7 linked regions of the Homo sapiens genome follow. The protein of the gene in region 2 purifies or fractionates together with the protein of the main gene of each other region. This does not show direct contact. Each region holds a gene or a part of one and is shown on either strand. Other genes may lie near its edges.

Evidence for each region.
Region 1: the proteins of LANCL1 (region 2) and UBN2 purify together in Homo sapiens (affinity purification with mass spectrometry; 3 studies listed by BioGRID and IntAct, with this or other methods). This does not show direct contact.
Region 3: the proteins of LANCL1 (region 2) and IPP purify together in Homo sapiens (affinity purification with mass spectrometry; 3 studies listed by BioGRID and IntAct, with this or other methods). This does not show direct contact.
Region 4: the proteins of LANCL1 (region 2) and TBC1D9 purify together in Homo sapiens (affinity purification with mass spectrometry; 3 studies listed by BioGRID and IntAct, with this or other methods). This does not show direct contact.
Region 5: the proteins of LANCL1 (region 2) and DERA purify together in Homo sapiens (affinity purification with mass spectrometry; 3 studies listed by BioGRID and IntAct, with this or other methods). This does not show direct contact.
Region 6: the proteins of LANCL1 (region 2) and RANGAP1 purify together in Homo sapiens (affinity purification with mass spectrometry, with the first as the bait; one large-scale study listed by BioGRID). This does not show direct contact.
Region 7: the proteins of LANCL1 (region 2) and TBC1D9B purify together in Homo sapiens (affinity purification with mass spectrometry; 3 studies listed by BioGRID and IntAct, with this or other methods). This does not show direct contact.

Annotation. Positions count from the first base shown.
Region 1 is NC_000007.14:139,234,237-139,237,736, reverse strand, and holds part of UBN2 (ubinuclein-2), read right to left. Parts: intron 733-3,500; coding exon 640-732; intron 1-639.
Region 2 is NC_000002.12:210,473,960-210,477,961, reverse strand, and holds the start of LANCL1 (glutathione S-transferase LANCL1), read left to right. Parts: upstream 1-1,202; 5' UTR 1,203-1,342; intron 1,343-1,549; coding exon of another isoform or gene 1,550-1,565; coding exon 1,566-1,646; intron 1,647-4,002. UniProt on the Homo sapiens protein: Functions as a glutathione transferase. Catalyzes conjugation of the glutathione (GSH) to artificial substrates 1-chloro-2,4-dinitrobenzene (CDNB) and p-nitrophenyl acetate.
Region 3 is NC_000001.11:45,744,154-45,747,653, forward strand, and holds part of IPP (actin-binding protein IPP), read right to left. Parts: intron 2,309-3,500; 5' UTR 2,259-2,308; coding exon 1,967-2,258; intron 1-1,966. UniProt on the Homo sapiens protein: May play a role in organizing the actin cytoskeleton.
Region 4 is NC_000004.12:140,753,586-140,757,828, forward strand, and holds the start of TBC1D9 (TBC1 domain family member 9), read right to left. Parts: upstream 2,801-4,243; 5' UTR 2,461-2,800; coding exon 2,331-2,460; intron 1-2,330. UniProt on the Homo sapiens protein: May act as a GTPase-activating protein for Rab family protein(s).
Region 5 is NC_000012.12:15,914,332-15,917,831, forward strand, and holds part of DERA (deoxyribose-phosphate aldolase), read left to right. Parts: exon of another isoform or gene 1-1,985; intron 1,986-3,500. UniProt on the Homo sapiens protein: Catalyzes a reversible aldol reaction between acetaldehyde and D-glyceraldehyde 3-phosphate to generate 2-deoxy-D-ribose 5-phosphate. Participates in stress granule (SG) assembly.
Region 6 is NC_000022.11:41,276,188-41,279,687, forward strand, and holds part of RANGAP1 (ran GTPase-activating protein 1), read right to left. Parts: intron 1,831-3,500; exon of another isoform or gene 1,709-1,830; coding exon of another isoform or gene 1,696-1,708; intron 1-1,695. UniProt on the Homo sapiens protein: GTPase activator for RAN. Converts cytoplasmic GTP-bound RAN to GDP-bound RAN, which is essential for RAN-mediated nuclear import and export. Mediates dissociation of cargo from nuclear export complexes containing XPO1, RAN and RANBP2 after nuclear export.
Region 7 is NC_000005.10:179,869,898-179,873,397, forward strand, and holds part of TBC1D9B (TBC1 domain family member 9B), read right to left. Parts: intron 3,352-3,500; coding exon 3,222-3,351; intron 3,094-3,221; coding exon 2,995-3,093; intron 1,634-2,994; coding exon 1,565-1,633; intron 599-1,564; coding exon 358-598; intron 1-357. UniProt on the Homo sapiens protein: May act as a GTPase-activating protein for Rab family protein(s).

The sequences.
Region 1 (3,500 bases), on a different chromosome or scaffold from region 2:
CTGTAGCCTACTCTTGCCACTGTGTGACACTGTATCAGCTACTTAATCTTGAACTCAGAGCCTCAGTTTCCTCATCTGTAAAATATGGTCAATATTACTTAGCTTGTGGTTTTGTTACAAAGATTGGAGATAATATATGTAAAGCAAACCGCCCAGACTCTAGAAAGACTATAATAAATGATGGCTACTTGGCAGGATGGATCACTTGAGGTCAGGAGTTCACGACCAGCCTGGCCAACATGGTGAAACCCCGTCTCTACCAAAAATACAAAAAATTAGCTGGGTGTGGTGTTGCCCCTGTAGTCACAGCTACTTGGGAGGCTGAGGCATGAGAAAGGCTTGAACCTGGGAGGCGGAGGTTGCAGTGAGCCAACACTGCACCACGGCACTCCAACCTGGGCACCAGAGCGAGACCCTGTTTCCAAAATAAATAAATAAAAATAAAAATGAATGATGGCTACTTTAACTATCACAAGCCTGTTGGAATCTTTATTTGACTGTCTAACCATTCATTTGGTTTCCATTGGTGAGAACAAAGTAAGGCAGGCAACGGATATTTATAGGCCCTCCCAACCAGCCACAGAAAGCAAACAGGTCAATAGGATAAAATTACCTAAGTGATCAGTTTATTATACTCACATATTTCATTTCAAACTTCTTAGCCAACATTTCCACCTCTTGCCTCTCCTGATGTTCATCATTAAATGGGTCTTCTGTGTGAATGAGCTTCTTCTGATTCAAGGTGAATGGGAAAAGAAAGAGAAGTATCCATTAGTATTACAAATATTATTATTGTTTGTTTATTTATCATTATGTAACAACCACTTCAATTCTATTTCAATAAATGTGATCTGAAAGGAAATAAACTAGTGAGAATATATAACATGTTATATAATTAATTATATTATTACTCAGAGACTATATCTTAAATTTAACCAATACGAGACAACTTTTCCTAATACTAACAAGTAAGTCAGAAGTATTAAAACTAAAAAAAAAAAAGTTGGTTCATAGCAAAAAAAATTTACAGTTATAATGGACTCATATACATTTCACAGTGTTTTGATGAGTAAGAACTCAACAATCCAAATTGTCTTCACCTGCAAAATGATCACATGGTCACCTCATCCAAAATAACAAAGAAAAAAAATCCCCAGGAACACTAGCTAAATATGAAAATCTCACTTATAATTCTAGATTGATATCTTCACTAACAAAGATTAACTGCTTTGATCAGGAAATGCTTCTAAAAGGAGCTCTAGATTATTAATTAAAAGCAACACTTCAACCATCTGCCTGTGAGTTAACACTGAGTGTGTGTAGCGGCTAAGGCTTTCTGTTGAGGTCCAATATCAACAACCATTGTATCACCAATATTCTGTCAATGGATATCCATTCAGGGAATACACATTACTTTTAAACAAAGCTAGAAAAGAGAAATAGCTGCAAAAAGATTACATTACCATGCCTTTCTTCTAGTAGGGGAGAGTGAAAGTTTATTATAATACATGGTTTAACACACACACACACACAGAGCTAGAAGCTCACATTAACCATCTATTTAACAAAACAAACAAAAATAGCGATCACATCCTTAAGTCTTCTATTTTAGTATACAAACATATATATGGTTTTCAATGCACAAAAAAACCAAAACAAGGATAAAAATACTACTTTTATCCAATTTCAGACAACTGACTCAGGTAATTTAAAAAGGAAGGTATACTACAACTGAAATATTGATACAGATTCAATGGACCCTGAAGAGCAAGAAAAAATGCAGAAGGAAGATGTGCACACTTTGAAACTGAGACACTTCATCCTGGATATAAAGACTGAGACATGATCGGTCTAAAAAACATGATAGAAAAATGTGGACAGAATGAATACGAGACAATTCCTCACACTTGGGACATTAGAATAAAGGGATACTTCTTTAAAGGAGTTAACTTTAAAATCAATTTTTAAAATTATTGTAATAAGTAATAAATTTATAGAATAGTTCACCCCAACAGAAGCTACCAATGAAAGGCCAGGCGCAGTGGCTCACACCTGTAATCCCAGCACTTTGGGAGGCCAAGGTGGGTGGATCACCTGAGGTCAAGAGTTCAAGACCAGGCTAGCCAACATGGTGAAACCCCGTCTCTACCAAAAATACAAAAACTAGCTGGGTGTGGTGGCACACGCCTGTAGTCCCAGCTACTCGGGAGGCTGAGACAGGAGAATCGCTTGAACCTGGGAGGTGGAAGTTGCAAGTGAGCTGAGATGCTGAGATTGCGCCACTGCACTCCAACCTGGTTGAGACAGAGTGAGACTTCATCTCAAAAAAATAAATAAATAAAATAAAAATAAAAATTTACCAATGAAAAACATAAACATGATCCAAAAGGGAATAAACTAGTGAGAATAAACTAATAAGGAATCCTAGGCATGTCCAGGGTGTAGCCTTAACCAGAGGCTCAGGTTAAGGACAGTAAGCAATCGCCATGCCTATTACAAACTGCTCCCTCTTGCACTGTGAAGCCCAAATACTTACTATGGTATGACTCATTTTATATGTATAAATATAAACACATGGATCTATATTTTTAATAAGAATCACCTTATATGCCATTCTAAAATATTTTATGTATTTTATGTAGGTATCAAAAGTACAGCTCTTATTTTCTCTTGACAGCCTACAAAAACAAATTTAAGAAAATGGACTCACTTTTCTTTCACAGTTAAGAATAAACACCCTCCCCCAATCAAGATTAAGCTTTTTTGTTTTTTCAGGTGAAAAAAAATCTGAAAATTATCAACTACCCACATGCAAAACTGATGCAATAATTTTGTCCTTTGATCTTAACTCATCAACACCATTTTCAGGAGGTCTTTCACAAATTTCATCAAAAATACGCAAACAATGAAATACCATGGAATTCTCAAATAGTATAGTTACATTAACACACTTAATCACTTATTTTTCTTTTTACAGTAAATGTTCAATTAAGCATGTTCACAAATGGGTGTTCTGGTTAACTGATTTTTCTGGTTTACTAAGAGTTAAACCTTTTCTTGTGTATCAATCATTGCCAAAATTTATTTCTAAAATGCACTATTACCCTTTAGCCAGAAATGGTGACCAAATTAATCTTTCAGGATAGAGATGATTCCAATGCCAGTCATCATCCTAAACCATCTCAATCACAGCACTGTACTGCCTAGAGACAATAAGGTTAAAGGTTTAGCTAACCTGTGGTTTTGTTTTTCCTATTTTCCCAACATAAATTATTTAATTGTGCTTTCCTCATTAATACAAATAGAGCATAGAAAAATTTCTGATTATGTTCCAGTAAATCAGGGTTTTACTGTTCATTTAGTATTTAAGAAGGGAACTGATTTAAATGCACCCACATGAATGGTATCCATATGTAACACACCTTTTGTTGTTTGTTTTTTTTTAATAGCCCCACATCTACCAATTTCAGCATCTGGAGCTAAAATCTTATTTAGTGATA
Region 2 (4,002 bases):
AATTACCATCCTGCCTTGCTTAACAACAGTAATATTTAATTGCTTAAAGACTGTGAGTGGGATAAATGGATAGCCTTTAATCATTAAAGAAAAAATAATTGATAAAATGTCTCTCGTTTTCCTTTTCTCTCTTGTGAGTTGCTCCTTCAAACACCCATCTTTTAAAACATGAGAGATATCCAGCTTAAGACTCACCATGGGCCTCGGCTAAATCTTCATGAATTTGATGAGGTTAAGAAAGCAACTACATTTCCTAAGAAAGCAACTATTTTAAAAGAGCAAACCTGGGTGTGGGGAGGGATTAGGAGTAGAGTTTGGGATGGCAGCCTCAGAAGGACAAACTTAGGCCAAGGAGGGAGGGAGTTGGGGTGGAGACTGAGCTTCTCCAGTTGGAGGTCTGGAGCTAGGACTCTTCATTGAAACCGGAGAGAAGGAAAAGGAGAGAGTGAGGCTGACTTTTTAACTGAACTCCAAAATTCTCTGAGCAATAGAATGGGCCTAATATGTACCAGGTGGGATTTAATTTTAAATGAAAGAAAAATGTTTCAGATAGCAGGGACTGTTAAAACATTGAAATTGAATGTTGTGGATCTCCTGCTGTGTTGGTTTTCAGTATTTTTTAGAGCTTTGTTATCCAGTATTATAGTCCAATTTAGGCTAAGGAACAGAATAAATTTCCTAAGAGCTGTAATTTGTGTTTTCATGTGCTTTCCCCAAAGTATTATCAACTGCTATTTGATATCCTGTCCTTTGGGCATATTTTTGTTGTTGTTGTTGTTAATGATGGTGGTGCTTTTTTGTTTGTTTGTTTTAAGAAATGAAAAGAAAAGATTGGCAAGTCCCTGGAGAGACATTATCCCCCCACCCCCCGCCAAATTTTATCTATTGCGAACAGCAGAAATACCAGCATGTTCAGATCTAAAAGCAGTCTGTTTCTTCTCCAGGTTAAAAAAATATATACTTCTTATGACTCTGGACTTAAATTTGACTTTTTAAAAATAAGAAAAATTAAAGAAGGGTAGGAAATATTGGTCACATCTCCGCGTGATTCTAGGTCCTCACTTCTGCTACCCAGTAATTAAAATACCCTGCGTTATCCTTTAGAAATTACACGCCTGTGTCTTTAACAAACTGTAAGAGAGAAGGGGGCGGGTCTCGGGAACGGCGAAGGCTCTGATTGGCCCTCCTGGCAGGAACTGGGCGGTAAAATAGCCCTTCTGTTACTGTCCGGGGCTGCGGGGTGAGAGGCCAGGGCCGAGAAGGGCTTCAGGACGCGGGAGGCGCACTTGCTTCAAGTCGCGGGCGTGGGAACGGGGTTGCAAAACGGGGCCTCTTTGTCCGGGTGGGTTAAGGGCCCTGGCAGCTTTTTCGCGAAGGCGCCATGTCCTAGCAGTTGGGCCGCAGTGGGCCCGAGGTCCACTCGGACCGCCGAGACGGCTCGATGGCCCTGGAGCTGGAGGAAGGGGGATACCTGGGCGCCGCCGCCGCCCTCGCAACTCGGCCGAGGCCCCTATCTCAACCTAGTTTCTGTTTTTCCCCTGTTCTGCAGGCTTGCTTCCGGCGTCATGGCTCAAAGGGCCTTCCCGAATCCTTATGCTGATTATAACAAATCCCTGGCCGAAGGCTACTTTGATGCTGCCGGGAGGGTGAGTTTAGGATATGTCTGCCTGCATCCCTGCCTCTCCCCACGGTGTTCGGAAAGGTGCTCATTTTTGCCTGAGAGAGTTGAGCATCCCCCTTTAAAAAAATACATGATTCGACGATAAATACGTAAATTATTTAAAAATACATGTTAATATATACAAATTGAGCTCTAACATAATGTTAAATGTGTCATTGTTAACATTATTAATTGAAATAAACTCAATTATTGATAGTATAAATTTTAAAAATTGGCAAATATGTAGTTTACTATGTAATTGGCATTTTTTAATGTATTTTGGTTTGCTTCTTAAAAAGAGGTGAAGAATCCTAACGGTATTCACATGTGCCGTGTTACTCCTTTGTGATTATACACAAGTGCGTTCAGGGTAATGATGAGAGCAAACGGTGGTGTATGGTAAGGACGTCTTTAAACTGTTAGTGCTTAGAGAATTTGGGGACCTAGGAAACCTGAAGTTCTTTGTACCGGTGTCACTCCACAGGGCATATCCACAGCTGGAAAACAAAAAAAAAGAAACTTGTAAATTAAACTGGTTAGCATGTCACAAATCACTGTGCAAAAGAGAACCTGGATGTAAAATACTAGGGGCCTGTGTTTTCTCATGCCTCATTGGGTGAACATAATTGTTAAGAGGGAATACAGATATTTTTAAGAATACCTACTTTTGGCTGGGTGCAGTGGCTCACACCATTAATCCCGACACTTTGGGAAATCAAGGCAGGAGGATTGCTTAAGGCCACGAGTTTGAGACCAGCCTGTGCAACACAGCAGGACCTTATCTCTACTAAAATTTTTTTAAAAATTAGCCAGGTGTGGTGGAAAGCTTGTAGTCCCAGCTACTTGGGAGGCTGAGGCGGGAGAATTGCTGGAGCCTAGGAGATTCGAGGCTGTAGTGAGCTATGATTGCACCACTGCACTCTAGCCTGGGTGACAGAGACCCTGTCTCTAAAAAATAAAAAAATAAAATTTAGTTTTGAAAATGAGTTAAGTTGGAAACAAGGCACACGCTTTAAAAATTTTACCAGTTTATTTCTTTGAAACTTGTCAGCCATACAAAAGACATTTTATGTGATATAAAGGCCTTACAGATTTCATCCCTGTCAAATTAATCTGTGGGTCTGATGGTTGTTTTTTTCCTTAAAACACTTGTCACATTATAGATTAACTTGGGTCAGTAATGCAGGTAGGAGGAATCAAAGAGATGAAGAAGAGGTGTAGGGTAGAAGGCTACCAAAATGTATATGGAGTTTGAGTCAATCTGATTATTTTAAGACTAGTATTAAGCTGCCCAAACAAAGCTTTTTATAATTATCTTCAGGTCAGATGGATTCCCTTTGGCCATTTGGGCCTGCATTCTGCTTAGCTGTGCAGATTCTCAAGCTGAAGTATGTGTCTTGTCTTGCGGGAGGAGGACTTGCTGCTTCATACTGACTTGGCAAAGAGAACAGTTGAGGATTGTCCTAGTGACAGAAACCTTCAATAAAATGTACCTATTTAGACTGCCTATAAAGTAAATGCTTTTTATGAATTTAACCCTTTATTTATTTATTTATTTATTTTTATTTTTATTTTTTTAGACGGAGTCTCACCCTGAGCCCAGGCTGGAGTGCAGAGGCACAGTCTTGGCTCACTGCAACTTCTGCCTCCCAGGCCCAAGTGACTCTCATGCCCCAGCCTCCTGAGTAGCTGGGATTACAGGTGCACACCACCGCACCTGGCTAATTTTTTTTTTTTTTTGTATTTTTAGTAGAGGCAGGGTTTCACCATGTTGGCCAGGCTGGTGTCGAACTCCTGACCTCAAGTGATCCACCCATCTCAGCCTCCCAAAGTGCCGGGATTACAGGTGTGAGCCACCATGTCGGGCCAAATTTAACCCTTTGTTTCTAAGGGGAAAAATTCACAAATTTAAACCCTGACCCAAGAGTAATAATGTAGTTTATTGCCTAACGTAGTTTTTGGACAGGTCCTAGAAAGGAAGTAGCATACCAGTTCTAAAATTGTGTAATGTTGAACACGGAGGATCAAACCCTGGAGATCTGTCCTCCTTAATTTCTTAACACAAGATTTCAGTAAGGAACTGGTCTGTTTTCTGGCATCTGTCAGAAAAAAATAGAAAAGAAAAAAGGACTTTTAGAGACTTCAGATTATAGCTAGAGTTTGAATGATTTGGTGGTGTACCACAAGCAATCAATATTCTCACAGAGGTCACCTTTATTAAATGCAGAATGTGCCAAACAGAAAGTAACTTCCCTTCATAAGGCTGAGAGATTCTCATTATTCTTGATCTCTTGAAGGCCAGGCAAGATGATAAATTATATATGATCTATATACAGTAGATG
Region 3 (3,500 bases), on a different chromosome or scaffold from region 2:
TTCTCTCTCTCTTTTTGAGACAGTGTCTTGTTCTGTTGCCCAGGCTGGAGTGCAGTAGCATGATCATCACTCACTGAAGCCGCAGCATCCTGGGCTCAAGTGATCATCCCATCTCAGCCTTTCAAATCTTTTTTCTATGCATATTTATTGCATATCCTGTAAGACTATACATCGTTTTGGTGTGCCTTCTCTTTCTTTCCCCTTCCCCTACTCCCCTCTTCATCATTCCAGTTGTTTTATTTTATTCAGAGATGGGGTCTCACTCTGTCTCCCAGTCCAGGGTGCAGCAGCTTGATCATAGCTCACTGCAGCCTCAAACTCCTGGATCCTCCCACATCAGCCTCCCGTTAGCTGGGACTAAAGACACAAGCCACACACCCAGCTAATTAAAAAAAATTTTTTTTTGGCTAGGCGTAGTGGCTCACGCCTGCAATCCCAGTACTTTGGGAGGCCGAGGCAGGTGGATCACGAAGTCAAGAGATCGAGACCATCCTGGCCAACATGGTGAAACCCCGTCTATACTAAAAATATAAAAATTAGCTGGGCATGGTGGCACGTGCCTGTAGTCCCAGCTACTCGGGAGGCTGAGGCAGGAGAATCACTTGAACCTGGGAGGCGGAGGTTGCAGTGAGCCGAGACCACGCCACTACACTCCAGCCTGGTGACAGAGCGAGACTCTGTCTCAAAAAAAAAAAAAAATTTTTTTTTAGCCTGGGCAATGTAGTGAGACCCTGTCTCTACAAAAAATTTGTTTTACATTAGTCAGGCATGGTGGCACATACCTGTAGTCACAGCTATGCAGGGTGGTGAGATGGTAGCACTACTTGAGCCCAGGAGATTAAGGCTGCATTGAAGTGTGAGTGCACCACCACACTCCAGCCTAGACAACAGAGAGAGACCCTGTCTCAAACAAAATTTTTTTTGTTTTAGAAATGGGGTCTTGCTATGTTGTCCTGCATAGTCTTGAGCTCCTGGCCTCAAGCAATCCTCTCACATTGGCCTCCCGAAGTGCTGGGATTACAGGCATGAACCACTGTGCCCCTGTGTACATTCTCTAATGTTATTAAAACTCTTCAAAAACATTTAAGAGATAGTTTTGAGTAAAATAACATATGCTGATTATAAACACTTTGTGGAAAAAAATTACCTACAGATAAATGCTATCAAACATTCTGGCTGCTTTCTCATGTGTAAATACATATAAGTTTTTTTGGGTTGTGTTTCAAACAAAATAGGGGTTTATTTATATCCTGATTTTTAAAATTTTATATATTGTAAACATTCTTCCATAATAGTATACATATATTTTAAGATTTGTTAGATCTCATTTGTGAGATCTATACATGTATCATAATTTATTTAGCCATAAAACCTACTGAGACAAGATTTTATTCAATTATATACTACTATAAATAAAGTCACAGGCCAGGCGCAGTGGCTCACGCCTGTAATCCCAGCACTTTGGGAGGCCAAGGCGGGCGGATCATGAGGTCAGGAGATCGAGACAATCCTGGCTAACACAGTGAAATCCTGTCTCTACTAAAAATTAAAAAAAAAAAAAAATTAGCCAGGTGTGGTGGCATGCGCCTGTGTCCCAGCTACTCAGGAGGCTGAGGCAGGAGAATCGCTTGAACCTGGGAGGCAGAGGTTGCCATGAGCCAAGATCGCCCCACTGCACTCCAGCTTGGGCGACAGAGAGAGACTCCATCTCAAAAAAAGAATAAAATAAAATAATAATAATAATGTTACAATAAAATCCTGGTTTGTAAATATGTGCCTGCATCACTAATTAATTCCTTCAGATTCCTAGAAAAGGAGCACCGGGTCATAAGATATGAATTTTCAGTCACATAATAACATGTTGCTAAATTACCTTCTAGATAAGTTAGATCAATTTATATTTCCACATTAGTGCATGAGTGATTGAATCATTCTTCAGTCAAAGCAACAGACTCATGTAACATACCTGTGTAAATGAAATCTAGAAGTATCTGAAAGATTCCTGCTTCAATTCCTAGAATCGGTACAACATCTTTTGAGGACTCTTTCATTCCTCCAGTGAACAAAGCTGCAAAGTAAGGACTGCTGGCAGCCAAAACCAGCCGATGAGCTTTAAAACTTTCCTGTCCAACTTGCAGCTGCACATCACAGAAATGCTGTCCATTTCTCATCTTATTGATTTGGGCCAAGATGAGTTGGGCATGTTTATCTGATGAAAAAGGACTATCAGCAGCCTTGGGACAGTCCTCATTAGCCATGATGACGGTAGATTAATTAAAAGGACTGTTGCCCATAATCTGTTACTACCCTGAAAAACAAAATACAAAGAGATCAAGCAACAAAATTTTTTTAACATGCTTTCTATTCACACATAAGAAGCATTCTCTATACTTAAAATCTACTTAAGGACATAAAACAAATAAGGACTAAAGTGTGGTACTATTACTATTTCTAATATGGTTTCAGAGAATGAAATAAGTAGGGAAGCTAAAATAATTGGAGAATGCTTCACACAAGAAATGGGACCTGCACTAGAAACTGAAAGATAAACAGTTAATATTAAGGTATGAGGAGAGGACACTTCTTGATGGAGTAAAAAAAATAATAATAAAACACAAAGACAGAAAGTTAACAAAGCACACATCACAGAGCACACATCACAGACAACAGCAACTTTCGAAAAGCAGTTGTGATCAGTCTAACTGCTTAAAATCATTCAATGTGTACACTTCCCGTAGCACACAAAGCCCTTCGGGATTCTTGTTATAATTTAAGACTCTGTTCAAATATAACTTCCTCCAGGAACCTTTCCCCATTGCTCCTCTGGAATTGTGGAAATATGTTCCCAAACTCATCTGAGTTTGTTGCTCACCCTAAGCTTATTGGTTTTACATTCTATAGCACAGGTCTACCTTATCAAATACCCTACCACCCTACTCTTAGTGCGCGCATGCGCGCGCACACGAGCGCGCGCGCGCGCTTCAGAGCTCCTTGAAACACAGCCCTTTAAAGGCAGGTACTATCTTTCATAGCTTTAGCACCAGTATATAACATATGTTAGGTTTCCAATGTTTGTGAAATGAATGAGAACAAGGAGAAATAACAACAGCTTAGGTTGGGTTTTTTTTTTAACTTTTAACTTCTCCACATATTATGTCAATGGTAACTCTCACAATAATTAAGAGGTGAGAAGAAAAGATAATCTTATCTAAAATGAGAGAAAAGGAAACTGAAGCTCAAAGTTTCCCCAAGGATACAATGTTAGTATGACAGTCTCAGTATCTGAATCCAGGCCTTCTTACTCTAAATCCAGGACTGTTCCACCATATCACACTGCATAGGAATTATTAGGCCACCGGACACGTTCTAAATTACTTTTTAAATAAAGAAACTGCTGGGCACAGTGGCTCACGCCTGTAATCCCAGCACGTTGGGATGCTGAGGCGTGAGGATCACTTGAATCCAGGAGTTCGAGACCAACCTGACCAACATGACAAAAC
Region 4 (4,243 bases), on a different chromosome or scaffold from region 2:
CTGCCTCTGGTTTGCCTTACACCAGTTCAAATAACCATGCCTCTATTTTTCGAAGTTGTCTTTTCACTCATCTCTCTTCATTTGGATTCTGTTTTCTGCTGGGACTCTGTAGAGTGGCAATTTTACTTTAATTTATGTGATTATTTCATCAATACCTGTCTTCTACTAGGCTTGAGCTTCACAACATTAGCACTTCTAGAAGTTGCCAACAAATATTTGTTAAATGATTTAGTGAGTTAGTGAATGAATGAACTTACATTAGAATCAGAATATACTACACATTGTGTAACATTTCTAAAATGTTCCTGCTACATTTGACATGGCACCAAGGTATTAGACCAAACATTTTACCTCTCTTGCTTGAAAATAGCCTTTGTTGTCATAAATACTTTTACTCATGACAATGATTTCAATTATTCCATTAATAAGTGCAATCACTGTGATTTCTCAATTTACAAGATGTAATTTTACCTAAGTGAAAGAAGTCATTGATGACAAGATGAGATTTCAAGTGGACCGTAGTCAGTTATAGCTCTAAGAACCAGTAGGAACACAATACAAATGTTAAGCAGAAAAAGAAGGCTCTGAATCCCTGAATTTTTCACATCCTATTACAAATGACACAGGTAAATGAATACTTAATGCTTACAAGGTGTAGGAGGGTTAATTGCAGAAGGAAATGTTCTCTTTTTACTACAATAAATTATCTACTCTGTGTTGTTGTCCTAGGCTTAAAGGACTACATGGGCCGGGTGAGGTGGCTCACGCCTTTAATCCCAGCACTTCGGGAGGCCAAAGTGGGCGGATTATTTGAGATCAGGAGTTCAAGACCAGCCTGGCCAACATGGTGAAACCCCATCTATTAAAAATACAAAAAAAATTAGCCGGGCGGGTTGGTGCATGCCTGTAGTCCCAGCTACTCAGGAGGCTGAGGCAGGAGAATCACTTGAACCCAGGAGAAGGAGGTTGCAGTGAGCCGAGATCACGCCACTGCACTCCAGCCTGGGCGACAAAGCAGGACTCTGTCTCAAAAAAAAAAAAAAAAAAAAAAAAAAAAAGGACAATGTGGGCTGATTCCAATATTAGATATGTAAATTACATATTAACATTTAGAGTTAGATAACTTCTACAAAATGACCTGGAAAATCCTGGTATCAGATCACTAGTAAGTATTTCCAGAATGGGGTCTGGAGCTCTGCAGATTTATCTTTTCTGGTAGAATCAAGATCCTTCAAACATACCAGTATACATTGTACCACATGACACCTGAATTTTAATCTTAAGAAAATTAGTTTATAAATATAATCATAAGTAAATACATATATCAAGAATCTTTATTTCATAGCACAGCATTTGAAAGCAACAATTTACCTATTGTGCAAACTCCAGGTGATATATGAGGTTGATATAAGCTCAACTCTGAGGAGGGTCAAAGTTCATCTCTTTTTTGCAGTCTCCTTTCTAGTGAAACCTCTACTATTTCTTCTGCTAACTTTTTCACTGTAAAAAGTATTCCAGTTCTGTTCATTCTAAATAACACAGAGATGGAGAAGGTCCAATTTCTCTAGTATGGTATGAGTTCGAGATTATTTCTAATATGGCACTACTTTGGATATGGGTCTGACTGATCTTATTATCCTGAATGATATGACATGGCTTCAGCAACAATTACAATAATACCTTGAAGGGAGGGGGTTTAGGGAAGAAGTGATTGAGCAAAAATAGTTAAAATGCAGTTATACAGCCAATTATTTTTACAACTAGAACCAGACAATTTGCTTTGCTTTATGTCTAATTAGGTGAAACAAAAAAATTCCTGTTTCCGTATTCATTCTCTTCGGTCATAACTCATATAGGAAATGACCACATCAGTTCCTTACTTATCGCTTCCCTGGAAACAAAAGAGCATTTTATACCTGATCCTGCTGTTGCCAGTAAAGAAAGTGGAGCAAAAATTAACCTTCTTCCATCCCTCTTTTCCATTTGGAAAACAATATTTTTAAGGGGGGGAGGGGAAGGGAATGATGCATTCAATATATAGGGGATAATACATTCCCTCCGCCCCAGACTCACTCTTTCCCATTCTCCTCAACATATCCACTTAAAGAGCGCTCAGTACGCTGAGGGCCCCAAGCCTGACAGAGTCAAAAAAAGAAGCATCTCTGCCCAACCTGAACATCACGACTCTCGATGCCTCGCATACAACGAGGCAGGGCGGGTCGCCCAGCCCCAGGGGACCGGGCGGCGTCTCCCGAGCCTGCAGCCCAGGCCGCGGGCGGCGCCGCAGCGCTCCCGGCTCCCCTCCTGCAGGGATCGGCCACGGTCCTTACCCGCCAGTCCGCCGCCGCCGCCTCCATCGCCGGCGTGGCCCTTCCTCCGCTGCAGGATGAAGTATGGGTTGGCCCTCTCGGTGATCCACAGCGCGTTGGCCAGCAACACCTCCTCCGGGTTCACCCACATGGTCCTGGCTGCCGCGGGCGGGCGCACAATGGGCCCGTGGGTCCAGTCCTGCACCCACCACCGCGACAGGCGCGCACTCCTGGGCACACGCGCGCCCGCCCGCCCGTCCGCTAGGTGCGGCGGCGGCGGCGGCAGGCGACTTCAGGGGGTGGCCCGCGGCGTCCGGGCCACAACAAAGCCCCAGCAGGCGGCCCGGGAGGACGGTGAGGACGCGGGCGCGGCAAGCAGCATCCTCCCCGCGGCGTCGCCGCCCCGCGAGAGCCCGCGGCCGCAGACGCCCGGCCTGGCACTCTGCAGCCCGGCTCCCGGCCCACGGCGGCGGGAGGAGCGGGAGGAGGAGGAAGAGGAGGAGGAAGGGAGCGGGAGGAGGAGGAAGTGGTATAGCTCAGTCCCGGGATCCGGCTCAGCGCCAGGCAGGGCTAAGGGCCACCCGAGCGGATTCGGCCCCGCGGTCAGGGCCAAGCTGGGCTCCGGCGCTGCTGCTCCCGCGGCGCCGACTGGAGCTCCAGAGCCCCTCCCGTCTCTACCTGCTCGAGCTCCCGAAGTCGCCGCGCCTTAACGCGCCGTGTCGGGGCCGCAGGCGCCACTAGGGAAGCCCAGCTCCCCGCTGGAAGGACGCTCCGGACACTGCGAATGAATGACGACAACGCGGCTCACTTGGAGCGGGTCCGGGTTTGTGCGGACTCGGTACCACCGCGGGCTCCGCGCGCCGAGCTGAGCAGCTGTGGCTGGCTTCGGGGGAACCTTCGGGGGAAGCTCCTGGGGACCGTGTGCCAAGCACTGGGCCCGACGCCCATCCCAGCAGGGAGGACGCCGCCAGCCTGCGTGGGTGCGTGTGTGCTGTTTGTGTTTAAGGTTGACGCTCTATGGGATAGCGCCACCCCTTTTCCCAGGAAAAGTGTTTCAAGGTTCCAGACCTGGAGCTCGGTTAGAGACCCGGGGTCGGAAGCCAACGCAGCCAATGGTCGTCGATGTTTTTGTTTCCTGCATCCCCAGGGCAAGTCATGCGCTAAACTTGTCACCGCTTGTGACCCCTCCCCCCTCTCCATTCCATTGTAATTAAAGTGGCCTAGCTAAGTGCATTACATCACTTCTTTCCTTGACCTGTAGGGCGTGAGCAATAGAGAAGTTGGAAGCGGCCCAAAAGCTTAGACCAACTAATTCACACCACAGCTGTTCCTATATCGCATTTGGGGCTTCGAAAACTGGGCATGGCAGAATTTTAAAATTTATCCACTCTTGGTAGATGGATTTTTTTTTTAATCAGTGAAACCAGAAACACACAAACCAGGGCAGCTTTATCCCTAGACAGTTTCAGTTTCCCCAAATACTTCGAGCTTCCAGTGGTGATCACAGCCCATCTGCCTACATATCTGATGACCATTTTTTTTTCCTCCCGCCCAGGAGATCTGGAGGATAGTTCAGCCAAAAAAAAAAAAAAAAAAAAAAAAAAAAAAGTTCCTCTTCCCAAATGATGGGAATTTAGCAGACTCTGCTTTGTTGTGGATGCTGGGCAATCCTAGGGACTTTTCCCTTTCCAAATGAGCAGAGATTCAAATGAAACCTTCTTGTGTGGGCTTCAAAATTGTGACTTTTGTAGCTCCGACTTGAATTGTTGAATTCCTTCAATTAGTCGAATGAGCAAATCACCAGCCATTCTAATGAGACTGCCATTTCATCTGTTCGCTTCCTACCGCTTGGGCTCTCAAGGAATGGAAGTTTCCCTTGATGTTACCACACAGACTGATCTGCTTCTTCCAGGCATCAGTGGAAACCTCATGTA
Region 5 (3,500 bases), on a different chromosome or scaffold from region 2:
GAATTGTGCCACTGCACTCCATTGGGCAACAGACTGGAGACAGACTGTGTCTCAAAAAAGATAAAAAAAAAAAAAAAAAAAGAAAAAGTCTGTTGAATGAAGGAATGAATTGAGAGCTGCTTCTTACTTGGGGGAACTGGGGAATCTACCTGGTCCCCGTGTATGGTTGCATGGACAGATGCTGTGAAGCTTGGCACCTTCTTCCTCTTTGTAAGTATTATTAAGATTCAGTTTTGTTACATCCGTCTTCAGAGCTATCTCAAGAAGCCTATAAAGGATGTAGATAGTGTAACTTCCTTGCAAATGTTATCTTTGGAGGCGTCTGGAGAATGCGGGTGTTATTAGATGACTTCTAAGGATCTCCCTGCTCTGTCTCTGTGTGTCTGAAAACTCTTCTGTTCAAAAAGCAACATTTCAAAGATATCTGAAAAATAACCATGATGGGATTTTGTATTTTTTTTCGAGACAGAGTCTCCCTCTGTTGCCCAGGCTGGAGTGCGGTGGTGTGATCTTGGCTCACTGCAACCTCCGTCTCCCAGGTTCAAGCAATCCTCCTGCCTCAGCCTCCCGAGTAGCTGAGATTACAGGTGCCTGCCACCAAGCCCGGCTAATATTTTTATATTTTTAGTAGAGACGGGTTTTTGCCATGTTGGCCAGGTTGGTGGGATTTTTTTATTTTAAGAAGCACATTTATTTAGGTAGTTATTGAGTACCAATCTGTACTGGGTAGTATTACCCTAGGCTGGGGGTACAAGATAATCAGGGATGGTCACTGCCTTCACAGAGCTATTAATCGGTCTGGTTCAGGACCTGGACATCAAGCTAGAGCTACAATTAAATGCAAGTGTGATGTGCAATTATTTTTCATTTATTTTTGTCTAAAATTAGATAGATGTACCTAGACTGTGCTTTAAATGGGTTGTGAAAACAGAATGTCCTGGGCCTTTTGCATTATAATTTTTAATTTCCTTTTAAAAGAACCTATGAATTAGGGATTTAGGGAGCTCATTTTTGGCATTCCTGCTAAAGTATAACTTGGGTACAGAATGTTTCTGATTTGGGTGATGGTGATTTTCCACTGCAAAGTTAACGTTTAATTTTTGGAATGGATATTTATTTATTTATTTGTTTATTTATTGTTTCAATAGAGACCGTGTGTCAGTATGTTGACCAGACTGTTCTCAAACTCCTAGCCTCAAGTGATACTCCAGCCTCTGCCTCCCAAAGTGCTAGGATTATAGGCATGAGCCACCGTGCATGGCCTAGAATGGCATCTTAAACCTCAACAATAGGCAAAGGCTATCTGTTTGCATAATAATTCTTCACCTTATTTAATACCTACTGTGTGCAGACACTGTGCTTAGGTGCTGGGTATAATGATAGTGTCAACACAGAGCTCTAGCTACTTGTAAGGCACTATGCTGAATGCTTGAAATTCTCATTTAGTCCACAATGGCCCTGTGAGGGAGATAGCATGATCCAGGTTTACACACGAGCAAACTGAGGTACAGGGAGTTTTAAGTAACCTGCCGAAAACCAGTTAGGTATAGCTAATGTGGCAGAGCCAGAATTCAAGCCCAGGTGATTTGGTGCTAATAATGCTACATGCTTAAACAACCACACTGTGTCGACTGGTGCTAACTGGGAGCACTACACCCTGATGTCAGAAGAGTCAAATAGATAACTGGTGAATACTGTTAATGTTACTCTTTTAGGTTTGATTTGTCTGTTTAAAACATAAAGGTTACTGTTTTATTGCCATAACCCACATCTTAACCATTGCAGTTTGTTTCAGAGAAGATGCAATTTATCCTGAGGGAGAATGGAAAAGTCCAAACTTTGGTAGATTATGAGAGTAGGGTTCGATGTTAGTGAAGTTTTCAAGGATGGCATGTCAAAACCAGACTTCCTCAGGAACTGCTTCATGTGGATATACTGATGAGCCTCAGAGCATCATGTGATGGTGACCAGGGAGTGACCTCAAGGTGAATAGAGTGGGGCTTTTCTTTGTGTGTGTGTTTGTTTTCGTCTCTTGCAGTTTTGTAAAACGTTACCTTTCATACTCCAGTCTTTGGGCTGGCCTCAGCTTCTAGGTTTAAAAACCAATACTGTTTCTTTTTTTTTTTTTTTTTTTTTTGAGACAGAGTCTCACTCTGTCACCCAGGCTGGAGTGCAGTGGCGCCATCTCGGCTCACTGCAACCTCCGCCTCCCGGGTTCAAGTGAGCCTCCAGTCTCAGCCTTCTGAGTAGCTGGGATTACAGGCATGCGCCACCATGCCCAGCTAGTTTTTGTATTTTTAGTAGAGATGGGGTTTCACAGTGTTGGCCAGGCTGGTCTTGAACTCTTGACCTCAGGTGATCCACCTGCCTCGGCCTCCCAAAGTACTGGGATTACAGGCATGAGCCGTCGCACCTGGCACAATCCTGTTTCTTGATGTATTCTTTTAAAAAATGTTTAAAATAAGAGATGGGGTCTTGCTGTGTTGCCTAGGCTGGTCTTGAACTCCTGGGCTCAAGCAGTTCTCCCTCTGTGGCCTCCCAAGTGGCTGGGACTATAGGCTGTAGTCAATGTGCCAGGCTCTTGTTCTTTAGGTTAAAAAAAATTAAGTAGAAATAGTGAAGTATTTGATAATTTTGTTAATTTAGAGTGACTTTTTTGTCCCGAATTTCTACGTCTGGAGTTTCTCTTAGTAGTTTCCTGAAAAATAGAACTGGAATCTCTTTAGCTGTAAACAAGATAAACAGTTTAAGGAATCTATGGGTCACAAGTGAGAAGTGACCTAATACACCTTACAAAGTCCCCATATTTCTTTTATTGAGATAGAGGCCTTTAAATTTTGCCTTTAAGTTAAAAAAGTCAATTCCTAGTGAAAAAACAAAAACAAAAAACTAAAACATAAGGCAGTGTATTCTTCATTAGGTGGCATATGAAAATTTGACTCTAGCTCTTAGCTCAGGTGGTAAGAGAATTTAAAAATTTTTAGATTTCTGCAGGGAATTTCCCAACTGGAGTTAACTTGAGGTTTCTTTAAACAATAAAATTGATTTGTGTAATTTTAAGTTAATGTGGGTTTTATGTCTGAATCTAATTTTTTTCTCTTTAATATTTAATACTTAACATACATATGTTACTTTAGATTTCATAGAGTGCTTTTCTAACATAATCTCTTTTAATTCTCCCAGGAATCCATTGTGCTAGGCATTATCATTCTCATTTCATGGATGAGAAAACTAAGGCTCAGAAAACACAAGTAACTTGCTTATTATACCTCAGAGCTAGTAAGAGTTGAGGTCAAGACTCAAATGCAGAACTTCTGATTACAAGTTTTTTACCCTTTGCTTTACACCAACGGTCCCGGACCTTTTTGGCACCAGGGACTGAAGTGGTTTTGTGGAGGACAGTTTTTCCACAGACTGGGGTAGGGGTGGGTGTTTCAACAAGGTATTTCTGGCTTATCTTATAATTTCCCTTTCCCAGCACCAAAGTCAGCCAGTTCTCC
Region 6 (3,500 bases), on a different chromosome or scaffold from region 2:
ACAAGGTCTAGAAACATAGAAACCAAATGCTATAGCAGTTCTCTCTAGCTGGTAGGATAATGGGTGATTGTGTGTTTTTAACTATTTGAAGTAAAATGTTCTCAATATATCAGGTTATATAGCAGCTTTTAAAAGATCTATAATATAATCCCAATTAAAAACAAAATGGGCTGGGAGTAGTGGCTCACACCTGTAATCCCAGCACTTTGGGAGGCTGAGGCCTGAGGATCACCTGAGGTCAAGAGTTTGAGACCAGCCTGTCCAATATGATGAAACCCTGTCTCTAACTAAAAATACAAAAATTAGCCGGGTGTGGTGGTGGATGCCTGTAATCCCAGCTATTAGGGAGGCTGAGACAGGAGAATTGCTTGAACCTGGGAGGCAGAGGTTGCAGTGAGCCGAGATCGTGGCATTGCACTAATCCCTGGGCAACAAGAGCGAAACTCCGTTTCAAAAAACAAACAAAACAAAATGAACTCAGCTATGTTCAGGAAAAAAAAAAAGACTAGGCTGGGCGCGGTGGCTCACGCCTGTAATCCCAGCACTTTGGGAGGCCAAGGCGGGCGGATCGTGAGGTCAGGAGTTCAGGAGTTCAAGAACAGCCTGGCCAACATGGTAAACCCCGTCTCTACTAAAAATACAAAAATTAGTTGGGCATGGTAGCGCATGCCTGTAATCCCAGCTGCTCGGAAGGCTGAGGCATAATTGCTTGAACTGGGACCCAGGAGGCGGAGGTAGCAGTGAGCGAGATCTTGCCACTGCACTCCAGCCTGGGCTACAGAGCGAGACTGTTTCTCAGAAAAAAAAAAAAAAAGACTGTGTTAGAAATAAAATGCCCTGAAAGTAATAGTAGTTATATCCCTGGGGTTATATGAAAGTGAGGATTTTTTTTTTTTTTTTTTTTTTTTGAGACGGAGTCTCGCTCTGTTGCCCAGGCTGGAGTGCAGTGGCGGGATCTCGGCTCACTGCAAGCTCCGCCTCCCGGGTTCACGCCATTCTCCTGCCTCAGCCTCCCAAGTAGCTGGGACTACAGGCGCCCGCCACTACGCCCGGCTAATTTTTTGTAGTTTTTAGTAGAGACGGGGTTTCACCGTTTTAGCCAGGATGGTCTCGATCTCCTGACCTCGTGATCCGCCCGCCTCGGCCTCCCAAACTGCTGGGATTACAGGCGTGAGCCACCGCGCCCGGCCGAAAGTGAGGATATATTTTTTCCCTGTTCTTTGAATGTTTCTGTATTCTATAATAAACCTGCATTAATTGTATAATCTGAACAAAACCAAAACTTACATGAAACAAAAAGTTGAGTCTGGCTGGTACAGGATGGAGTAGGGTGACATGTGGGAGGGAAGAGATAGAGATGGGTATGGGAGATAAAGTTTGAACTTGACCTTCTGGTCAAGAAGGGTCTTGAGAAAGGACTTATAACCTAGCAGGGGCTCCCTAAGAAGTTGTCCAAGGTGGGTCCAAGTTTCCCTGGTTGGGCCAGAACCCAAGGATGGCTCACTGATGCGGGTACCTTCACTTCCAGATGCCAGGGGATTCAGGGTTGGTCAGTGCCAGCCAAGCCTTGGCAAGGGATGAAAAGACTTCCTGGGTGCTCTTAAAGTAAAAGTGAGACCTCTCCCTGCCTTACTTCCCAGAGCCTTTTCACTTGTTTTCATAGAGTATATTCACATTTTGCCTTCACTTAGTTACCTGGGTATATCATTCCTATTCCAGATTTGCTGCTTCTTAGGAGCTGGGTAAGCTGGGCACCCCTGGGGACTTACAAAATGGGAGACACCACATTCAGCCTGTGCTGGGAGAGTAAAGAAGTTAACTGGATGGATTTCAGAGCCAGCCAAACTTGAGTTTTTTTTTTTTTTTTTTGAGATAGTCTCGTTCTGTCACCGAGGCTGGAGTACAGTGGTGCCATCTCGGCTCACTGCAACCTCCGCCTCCCGGGTTCAAGCGATTCTCCTGCCTCAGCCTCCGGAGAGTAGCTGGGATTACAGGTGTCCACCACCACGCCCGGCTAATTTTTGTATTTGTAGTAAAGACAGGGTTTCTCCATGTTGGCCAGGCTGGTCTGGAATTCCTGACCTCAGGTGATCTGCCCACCTCGGCCTCCCAAAGTGCTGGGATTACAGGCGTGAGCCACCGCACCTGGCCCAAACTTGAGTTCTAATCCCAGCTCTACTCATTAAAGCTGTGCCCTTAGGCATGTCATACCACCTCCCTAAACCTCAGTTTTCCAATCTGCAAAATGGAAATGCAATCTATCTCAAAGGATTTTGTGAAGATAAACTGAGATACTATTTATCTGGCACTTAATACCCTTATCTGACACGGTGTTCAATAAATGGCATTTGCCATCAAATCTCTGTTTCCTAAACGGAGCTCAATGTCTAATTAGAAGCACAGGAATAGGGATTTCACTGAACCTCTGTGAAAATCCTAGCTCTGCTATTTATCAAATGTGTGACCTTGGTCAAGTTACTTAAAGTCTCCTAAATTCCTTTTTCTCATTTATAAAACAGCAACATTCCAATCTATCTCCCACAAGGGTGACGCAAGCATCAAAAGTGATAAACGAGGTCAAAGTGGGCGGATCACCTGAGGTCAAGAATTCAAAACCAGCCTGGCCAACATGGCAAAACCCCGTCTCTACTAAAAATACAAAAATAAGGGGCCGGGCACGGTGGCTCACGCCTGTAATCCCAACACTTTGGGAGGCCGAGGTGAGAGGATCATGAGGTCAGGAGATCGAGACCATCTTGGCTAACTAACACGGTGAAACCCCGTCTCTACTAAAAATACAAAAAAATTAGCCGGGCGTGGTGGCGGGCGCCTGTAGTCCCAGCTACTCAGGAGGATGAGGTGGGAGAATGACATGAACCCAGGAGGCGGAGCCTGCAGTGAGCCAACATCATGCCAGTGCACTCCAGCCTGGGTAACAGAGCGAGACTCCGTCTCAAAAAAAATAATAATAATAAAAATACAAACACAAAAATAGGCTGAAGGCCAGACACAGTGGCTCACGCCTGTTATCCCAGTACTTTGGGGGCTGAGGCGGGCGAATCACCTGAGGTCAGGAGTTCTAGACCAGCCTGTCCAACATGGTAAAACCCCATCCCTACTAAAATACAAAAAATTAGCGGAGCATGGTGGTGGGTGCTTATAGTCCTAGCTACTCAGGAGGCTGAGGCAGGAGAATGGCGTGAACCAGGGAGGCAGAGCTTACAGTGAGCCGAGATTGCACCACTGCACTCCAGCCTGGGTGACAGAGCACGACTCCATCTCAAAAAAAAAACAAAAAGAAAAGAAAATTAGCTGGGCATGGTTGTACACACCTGTAGTCCCAGCTACCCAGGAGGCTGAGGCATGAGAATTGCCTGAACCCAGGCAGAGGTTAAAGTGAGCTGAGATTGCACCACCACACTCCAGCCTGGGCAACAGAGCAAGACTATGTCTCAAAAAAAAAAATTAGCCAGGCGTGATGGTGTGAGCCTGCAGTCCCA
Region 7 (3,500 bases), on a different chromosome or scaffold from region 2:
CCGAGTAGGACCCTCTTCACAGCCTGTGCTGCCCAACTCCCTCCTGGAGAGGTCACAGGGTGAGTCCCAGATCTCCTGTCTCCCTGGCGTCCTGCTGGGAAGGCTCAGCCCTTCCCTGGGGCTGGCAGACCAGCTTCTAGCAGCCCCAGACTGCATGAGGGAGGGGAGCGGGCAAGGCTCCTGCTGGACCCCATCTCGGCTCCCGTGGGTAAACTGTTCTTCCCGTATCTAGGGCCAGGGGCTCAAGCTGCCCCCTACTTGCTGCAGGGGGAACAGACAGGAGATGCTGGCATTTGGAGGCTTCCTGGGAAAGGGTGAGGGAGGGTCAAGCCCCTGGTAGGCCCTGCAGGCACTCACTCATCCCTGTCACGAACTCCTTGAAGTTGATCAGCGAGTCCTTGTTTTCGTCCAGGAGCCTGAACATGCGCCCTGCCAGCAGAGGTGTGTGGGAGCCACAGGCCCAGGGTGTCAGGCTGGCAAAGAGTTCCCGGAACTGGCTGGCATCAATCCGGTACTGCTCCAGGTAGGGCAGGCTGGGGTCCCGACGGCCGGCCATTGTGCGGCTGCACCCCCAGTACTGGCTAGCCAGGTGCTTGGCCTGTGGGACACGGTCTGGTGAGACGGTCCAGCCGCTAAGCCTGTGGGTCGAGGGGACCCCTAGGCTGGTGGTGTGTCCACCCTCCCCCTCTGTCCAAGCCTGCGGAGCCCTGGGGCGGTAAGCACGGGCCAGACACTGCAGCACCTCCCGAAAGCTCTCAGGCTGTCATCAGCCCCTTGTTAACAGATGGGGAGGGGGTTGGCTGAGAGACAGAGTCCTTGGCAGCCTGCAGGGGGCAGAGCTGGTCTGCTGGCCCCAGAGAAGGGCTGAGCCTTCCTGGCAGGGCTCCAGGGAAACAAGAGGCCTGAGGCTTGCTCTCGCTCCTATGACCTCTCTAGGAGGCAGGCAGAGCTGGCTCAACTGTTGTGACGCTAGGGCCACAGCGCAGCAGCCACCTTGAGCACGGAACCTGAGGCAGCTGGAGAGGTGGACGGGAACTGGCAACAACAACAGAAAGGCAGATTCCAACCATTAAGGCTGGGTCTTTTGCTAAAAGCACAAGGGAAAGAAAAATTCTCTTTGCACTGGGATTACTGAGAAGAGAGTATGACCCTGGAGCTGTGACGACAGTCCTGGCATGGTGTAGGAAGAGCAGTGCAGAGGACATCAGAGATGGGGAAGCCTGACGGCACATTTCAGCACCTGGATCCAGCCATGCCTGAAGCTGTGCATTGCTAGACTTTTCAGTCTAGCAATACAGGGGCAATGTATTCCCTCTTCTGTGTAAGATGACTTGAATGGATTTGCTGCCATTTAAGAGGTCCTGCCTAAACTCCAAGAGGGATTCGATTCTACCACAGGAGGTTCATGGCAACTGCATCTGAGGATGCACTTAGATCTGTTTCTGTTTTTCTATTCTATTCCCTATTTCTATCTACTTCTAAGAGGATACTCTTAGATCCATTTCTTTTCTGGCAGGAAGCTAGGAAGCTAGGAACGGGTCCTGCCCTGGCTCTGAGCTGTCACCTTAAACACCATGTAAAGGTCCTCCAGCTCTTCAATGGAGAAACCAATGTCCACAGGTATAGCTCGGACCTAGAAGGAAGGAGAAACAGGGTATATAGCTGGATCACAAGCTCCTGGCACAGAAGTACGGCACTCTGTGAGAGCATCCTCGGCAGACAAGGGCAAGGGTGTGAACCGCCCTCTCAGTGGCCCAGCACTCAAGGGCGGACCCTTCGGGAGAGAGCGAGGCCCACAGCCCATCCCTGGCCCCCCACCTACCACTCAGCTCACACTCCGGGCTCCTTTCCAGGATGGGCGTGGGGGAGTCTCTCTCTCACACTCCGGGCCCCTTCCCAGGATGGGCGTGGGGGAGCCTCTCTCTCACACTCCGGGCCCCTTCCCAGGATGGGCTTGGGGGAGCCTCTCTCTCACACTCCGGGCCCCTTCCCAGGATGGGCGTGGGGGAGTCTCTCTCTCACACTCCGGGCCCCTTCCCAGGATGGGCGTGGGGGAGCCTCTCTCTCACACTCCGGGCCCCTTCCCAGGATGGGCGTGGGGGAGCCTCTCTCTCACACTCCGGGCCCCTTCCCAGGATGGGCGTGGGGGAGCCTCTCTCTCACACTCCGGGCCCCTTCCCAGGATGGGCGTGGGGGAGCCTCTCTCTCACACTCCGGGCCCCTTCCCAGGATGGGCGTGGGGGAGCCTCTCTCTCACACTCCGGGCCCCTTCCCAGGATGGGCGTGGGGGAGCCTCTGTCCTCAACGTGCAGCTGAGGTCGCAGAGTGAGGGATACTCATTTGGCTCCCGTCATCTGGATCCCTGCAGAGACCCTGGTGCCAGCTCTGTGGAAGGAGGCCGAGAACCTGCCAGCCAATGCTCCTGTACTTTAATTGGCCAAAGCAGTCAGTCTGTGGTGCTGCGACCCAATGTCCTTACAGTGTCCTACAAGCCTGCAGGAGGGCTGGGAATGTGGAAACAATGGAGGAAGTCCCTGCCTTTGGGGGCAGAGACCACAAACAGGTCTTGCAGCACAGGGTGGCAGGGAGGGCCTGGCCCCTCTAGAGATGAGAACAGCAGCTTGTGGCAGACACATGCCATTTGGGGTGTGCGGAGGATGGCGGCATGTTGCTACCTGGGAGTGGGGCAGGGAACACATGGGAAGCCAGGCTGGGCGGGCTCGGCCCAGAGGGCTGGGCATGTGGCTTTCAGGGTGGGAGCCATCTGAGAAGCTTCCCGGTGACACATCCACCAGCAGAGAAAAGTGACTGGAACCTCTCCCCACATTCCCACCTACACCCCTGGATCCCGGTCCCATGAATCCTACCATGATGTACATACCAAAGCAGTGTAGGAGACTGGGTGCGGTGGAGCCCTGTACCCACCCTGCTCTGTGGGGAAGGCACTGCTGCCCCCCCAGCCCAGCCCCTGCCCAGCCCTGCTGGCACCCATACCACACTCCTCTTGGCCGTGTCCTCCAAGGACTGGATCACTTTCAGCCTCTGTTTAAACCGCATCTGCTCAATGTCTTCGGCCCTCAGGCTGCTGAATTTCTATAGGGAGAGGTGACTTGGTGAGATCAAGCCAACTGCAGGGCAGAGGGCCACCACCTGCCCATAGCCACCCCAACCCACATGCCAGATGGAGCGGCCTGGCCAAAATGGCCCCACTGGGTGCTGACCTCATAGGACACTTTCAGGAGCTCAAAGATGTCCACCTCTGCAGGGGGGTCATCGCTGCTGCTCAGCAAGGCACGGAGGTGCGGGATAGGAGGAGAGACACTCTGCTTGTTGACCACATTATCCAGGTATCTGCAAAGGACAGAGGACAACAGTCCAGACCACGCCCAGGCAGAGGGAGCCTCCTTCCCACAGCTGGGTGATGCGGAGGGACCCAATCTTTATGCAGACTCCTAATAAGGAGTGTGCAGAGGACTGGGCACCCTGCAGGAGGGCAGAGG